Regions from separate parts of the Homo sapiens genome. Here region 2 is linked to region 1. Evidence: fine-mapped expression QTL. A gene starts in region 1. The other region holds a variant in brackets. All regions are shown on one strand. Distances are from middle to middle.

Region 1 (2,915 bases):
AACTGACAATTTTCAGGTAAATTTCCTTTCTTCTTATTAATAAATATTCACTGGTGCTAGATCAGAAGCCAATAATTAAGTAAAAGTCAAAAGGAAAATAGAATTCCATCAACTACGTTCTAATTATAAAGAAAAATCCCTTCAGGGATGGTATCTGACTCAGTGAAGCGTGCCTGTGATTTTGGTGGACGAGAACTAGAACTGAACGGTGCTTCAAAACGTATTTTTCTTTCAAAGGTCTCAAAAGCTGTATGACAAATCCGTGAAGAAACAGCATATAAGGTACCTCGACTCCGGCGGCAGCTAAAACCCATCTCACGGACTCCATCCGGCCTCTTCCGTTGGGATAGTGGAGCTTGGGCCTTGCTGCCATGATAGCTTTTCAGGCTTTCTGAAATACAAATGCAGCAGCTCGTCGCAGACCAACAGTCCCAATTTCGCGTCTTCAACCCAGTGCTCAGGGGCGAAATGAATATTCAGGATTTTGGCACGGGAAACTGTTCTTTATTTTTGTTGCTGCATTTTCCCTCACTCAAGAAAAAAAAACCACCATTTTAAAACATGGAGAAAAAAACCTTGGCTTTTATATGATTTCTATTTATGACTTCTTATCCTGGATCTTGGGAAGCTGGGGCCATTTGTTGTAAAAACATATGTGCTAGCAGTACGGGATTTCACAAATTCAGAATATTATATATTTTGACCTCGAGAATCTCAGATTTTCCAAATTCAGCTGGGGGATAGGGGGTGGCAGGCGTTGAAGAGGGTAGCGAAGGAAAATCGCACAGCCACTGGAAGCTCTTCAAGTATTCATGCTTTTACATACATCATCATATTTTATTATCACGGCAACTGGAAGGTGAACAGGCCGAGTACTACTACTGTCTGCAAAATGTGCGTCCACCGTCACGCATGCGGTGGCTGCGCCCCCCGGGTCCCGCGTGTCCACCACCCCTACAGGGAGATGAGCCCCCGGCCTTGTAAAACGAGCCGGGGGCCAGGGCTTGGCCATCTGAGATCGCACTCTCCCATGCTCGTCTTCCCCGCTCAGCCCATGCAGGGGCGTAGCGGCAGCCCAGCCAGGCCCGGGGACGATCCGAGCCCACCTTCCACCAATGCATTCAGACTCCGCAGAAGGGGTTTAAAAAAAAATACGCACACTGAGCCAAGAAGGACCCCAGCTCCAGCCAAGGGGCCCACCTCTGCCCAGACTGGATGGAGCAGGAGGACAAAGGACAAGAGGAAGAAAAGACAAGAGAAGGACTGAACTGGGGGAGTGAGGGAAGAATGCGAGAGTGAGACTCAGAGAGTAAAGGGGAGGGAAAAAAAAGAAGAGAGAAAGGGCGAGGAAGGGGGCGACCGCAGGAGGGAGACAGACCTGGAGTCCACTCGGAGGCCTGGAGCCGCACAAAGCGCCAGGTCAGCGGTCCCGGCTGGGTGAGACCAGCAGGCGGCTCTAGCGCGCGGGAGCTGGGCGAGGCTCCGGGACGACCTCACCAATGGAGACTGCAGTATTTAGCATGCCCCACCCATCTGCAAGGCATTCTGGATAGTGTCAAAACAGCCGGAAATCAAGTCCGTTTATCTCAAACTTTAGCATTTTGGGAATAAATGATATTTGCTATGCTGGTTAAATTAGATTTTAGTTAAATTTCCTGCTGAAGCTCTAGTACGATAAGCAACTTGACCTAAGTGTAAAGTTGAGACTTCCTTCAGGTTTATATAGCTTGTGCGCCGCTTGGGTACCTCGGATGTGAGGGCGATCTGGCTGCGACATCTGTCACCCCATTGATCGCCAGGGTTGATTCGGCTGATCTGGCTGGCTAGGCGGGTGTCCCCTTCCTCCCTCACCGCTCCATGTGCGTCCCTCCCGAAGCTGCGCGCTCGGTCGAAGAGGACGACCATCCCCGATAGAGGAGGACCGGTCTTCGGTCAAGGGTATACGAGTAGCTGCGCTCCCCTGCTAGAACCTCCAAACAAGCTCTCAAGGTCCATTTGTAGGAGAACGTAGGGTAGTCAAGCTTCCAAGACTCCAGACACATCCAAATGAGGCGCTGCATGTGGCAGTCTGCCTTTCTTTTGACCCATTACCCATCTAAGTTAGATGCTTTTTTAAATGTTTTTTAATTTTTAAATTTTTAATTTTTTTCATTATTTATTTTTTATTTTTGAGACGGATCTCGGCTCACTGTAACCTCCACCTCCCGGGTTCAAGCGATTCTCCTGACTCAGCCTCCCGAGTAGCTGGGATTACAGGCGCGCGCCACCATGCCCGGCTAATTTTTCTATTTTTAGTAAAGACGGGGTTTCGCCATGTTGACCAGGGTGGTCTTGAACTCCTGACGTCAGGTGATCCTCCTGCCTCGTGCTGGGATTGCAGGCGTGAGCCACCGCTCCCGGCCCTTAGATGCTTTTTAATCAGCAAGTACGCAATGCTTTCCTGACAGGAATGTCAAGTCCGTCAGGAAATCCACATAAGGGTGTTAAGCAGGCAAAGTACCACATACAGATTAAAATCAAAAGCACTGTCAACGCTTATTTAATTTATACAGTAGACCCTAACTTTTCTAATTTTGTGTATACATATATATACATGTATACATGTATACAAACATACATATTTTCTTCTTTCTTTCTTCATCTCAGTGGGACATCTTGAGATTTCTCTTCATTTTGTACATTTTAGAGACAAGTGCTCTATAGTCACGGTCTCAAGTCAGCACCTGTTTGGAAGGGGGTCTTTGGAGTTGGGGGTGGTGCTAAAAGAATAATTTGGCTGGCAAGTTAGTTAAAACATTAAAAATATATTAAAACTATCAGGGCTATATTATGGAACAATTGCAAAATTCACATGGATTTCAAAGTTTGAAATATATGCCTTCGAAAATAAATTTTGTTTTTAGAGGCAGCTTCTG
Region 2 (2,915 bases), 76 kb before region 1:
CCGTTGGGTTTCGGTACTCCTAAAATTGATGTACTGCAGGGGCTATTGCATGGTTTTACTAGGCCTTGGGCTTTTACGTCCTTAACAATCCTTTGGAGTCCTTGTTGGGCCTTGAGTCTAAGGGGGTACTGCCTTTGGTAGGGAAAGGAGGTGGAATCCTTCAGTTTAACTTGAACAGGATGGGCATTCTTTGCTCATCCATAGTGTCCTTCTGTTGCCCAGACTTCAGGATTAATTCCTTCCTCAAGCAGGGAACAACAAACAGGTGTTCCTTCTCCTATGTTCAGGTGTATAATGGCCCCTGCTTTTGCTAGAATGTCTCTCCCTAACAAGGGAGTGGGGCTTTCAGGCATAATTAGAAAAGCATGTGAAAAGAGTGAAGTTCCCCAGTCACAACTTAGTTGCTGGGAGAAGTATCTAGTGACTGCCTGTCCTAGGACCCCTCGGATAGTGACAGATCTGGAGGACAGTTGTCCGGAACAGGAGAGTAAGACTGAGAAGGCCGCGCCAGTGTCCAGGAGACAGTTAACCTCCTGGCCCTCAATGGTCACACATACCCGGGGCTCTGTGAGGGTGATGGCATGGGCTGGCACTTGCCCCAGGCACCCTCAGTCTTGCTGCTGGATCTTCTGGTTAGTGGCTTCTGACTCAGAGGACCTTCATCCCCTGGGGCAGTAGGCCTTCCAGTGATTCCCTTGACATAAGGGGCATGGACAAGGGGGTAGCTTATTTCTACTTGGACAATCTTCTTTAAAGTGCCCTTGTAGATCACACTGGAAGCAAGCCCTATTAGGCATTTGATTTGCCCTTTCCAGAGCCTCCAAAGTCCGCTTGCCTGAGGGCTATGACTAAAGAAGTGGCCTTTTGTTTATCCCGTTTGTCCAATCCGCCTGCTCCTCCTGATCTCTATTATAAACAACTGAGGTTGCCAAGTTCAATAGTGTTTCTAAATTTTGCTCCAGGCCTAAGGCGGACTTTTGAAGTTTTTTTTCTAATGTGTGCAGCTGACTTAAAGGATAAACTTATCCTTTAAGATTAGTTGGCCTTCAAGAGAGTCAGGTGACAGAGAGGTATGCTTCCTCAATGTCTCCCTTAGTCTCTCCAGAAAGGCCGTAGGATTTTCTTCCTTTCCCTGTGTTATAGTGGACATCATTGAATAATTCATAGGCTTCTTCCTAGTTTTCCTTAGTCCTTCTAGCATGCAAGGTAGCAAATGTCTGTGGCACCAATCTCCATGTTCTGAATCTGTGTCCCAGTGTGGGTCTACACTGGAAACTGCCTGCTGGCCTGTGGGGAATTGTTCTCTTTCCTCTGTTGTCATCCTGTCATTGACCTGA[C/T]GGAGATACCAGAGATTGCCACACTCTTGGGCTGCAGTTTTGGTGGCACTTCTCTCATTTGGGGTTAGTGTTTGATCTAGCAGTAACATTATATGTCTCCATGTCAGATCAAAAGATTGTCCTAACCCTTGTAAAACATTAATATAGCCATCAGGGTTATCTGAGAATTTACCTAGGTCTATTTTAATTTGCTTCAACTGTGAGAGGGAAAAAGGTGCATACACTCTGACTGGGCTGAATTCTCCACAATACATCTTAGGGGTGTTTTTGCCTTGGGGGAAACGTTTCCCATCTGAAAAAAGAACATAAGGATGCCAGCACCCCAGTAATTTTCCAATGAGCATTAGTCATAGAGCATCCTCTATGGTCCTAATGCTTATTACTTTCCAGGGTGCGTAACCACCCATGGACCTCTGCTTATTGGATTAGTTAAGCTCACTGATGTGGCAGTCCTGCCCCTGTTTTCCCACCTTTCTTGACCACAAAGAAATGGGTCTGGGCTGCTGGATTCTAGTGGTCCTTTACCAGTGTGTCCAACATTGCCTTTGTGCTCAGGGGTGAGTCCTAGAGCTGGGCTGGGTTCCTGAATATTTCATAACAACCCAGCTGCCCCATCAAGATGCATTCCCATAAACAACAGTTCTTATGCAAATTCATTTCAGAGAACGTGTAGGTAACTTTTTGAGTCAGGATTGAGTAAGTACTTGATTCTGTAAGTACTTTAAGGCTTGGCTGAGTGCAAACAGCTTGCATGTTTGAGCAGAGCAATTATTAGGCAATTTTTCTAACTCTGCTTCCACAAGAATCTCCCTGTCAGTTACTGAATACCCATTGTATCCTCAATCACCTGAGAGGAACCATCTATCTTCCTGTCCTGAAGGGAGTTCCTCCTAGGTCTGGTTGGACCTTTGTATGGTAATTAAGATTTAAATCCCCTGTTAGGAAATCTGCTGGGTTAAGGGAATTATCAGTGGTTGGAGTTACATTACCTTTTTCTAACAGAATAGCCCCCATACTTTAAGATTTTTGAGTTAGTAACCTTTTTGCTTTTTTGACTTAGAATAACTCTGAACTGGTGAGGTGTGCTCACAATGAGGTTTCCTCTAAAGGTTACTTTTCTACTTTCTTCTGTTAGCAAAGCAGTTGCCGCTACAGATTGAATGCATCCATGGGTTACTGGGTTAAGGATTTTTGATAGGAAAGCTACTGGTTTTCTGTGGTCTCAGTGTTTTCAGGCTACGCCCTTGTTTACACTGACAACAAGGTAGTATTGGAGTGTTATAGGGTCACGGAGAGGACCTTCAATTATCAATTATAGGTTTTAAATTTACGCTGGCTTTTAAAGGAGTACAGCGTACTTTTTTTTTTTTTTACTATTTCTTTCTTTTTGACTCCCTCTGTCTCTCTCTCTCTCCTCAGTGTCTCTCTCTCCTCCATCTCTCTGTCTCTCCCCTCCGTCTCTATCTCCTCCATCCTCTCTCTCTCCTTCTCTTAGCCATTACAAACTTGGGGCCCTGGCAAGAGTGGGGGGAACAGGTCCCTCATAACTGCCCATGTTGAAAGCTGTATACCTAAATC

The links.
Region 2: its variant is fine-mapped to the expression of GSTA4 in liver (GTEx, PIP above 0.99).

The regions. Positions count from the first base shown.
Region 1 is chr6:52,993,871-52,996,785 of GRCh38, forward strand. GSTA4 (glutathione S-transferase alpha 4) reads right to left here and starts at 1,414. Exons shown (of 7, transcript NM_001512.4): 1 at 1,379-1,414; 2 at 287-391. The coding sequence starts at 373. It overlaps RN7SK (RNA component of 7SK nuclear ribonucleoprotein), which reads left to right and starts at 1,750; the gene lies at 1,750-2,081. RefSeq lists silencers at 1,335-1,566, 1,898-1,987 and an enhancer at 1,518-1,737.
Region 2 is chr6:52,917,627-52,920,541 of GRCh38, forward strand. No RefSeq gene overlaps it. Among named protein-coding and RNA genes, the nearest start is that of GSTA3, 9.4 kb to the left of the region's middle. The variant C/T (reference allele first, on the strand shown) is at 1,338.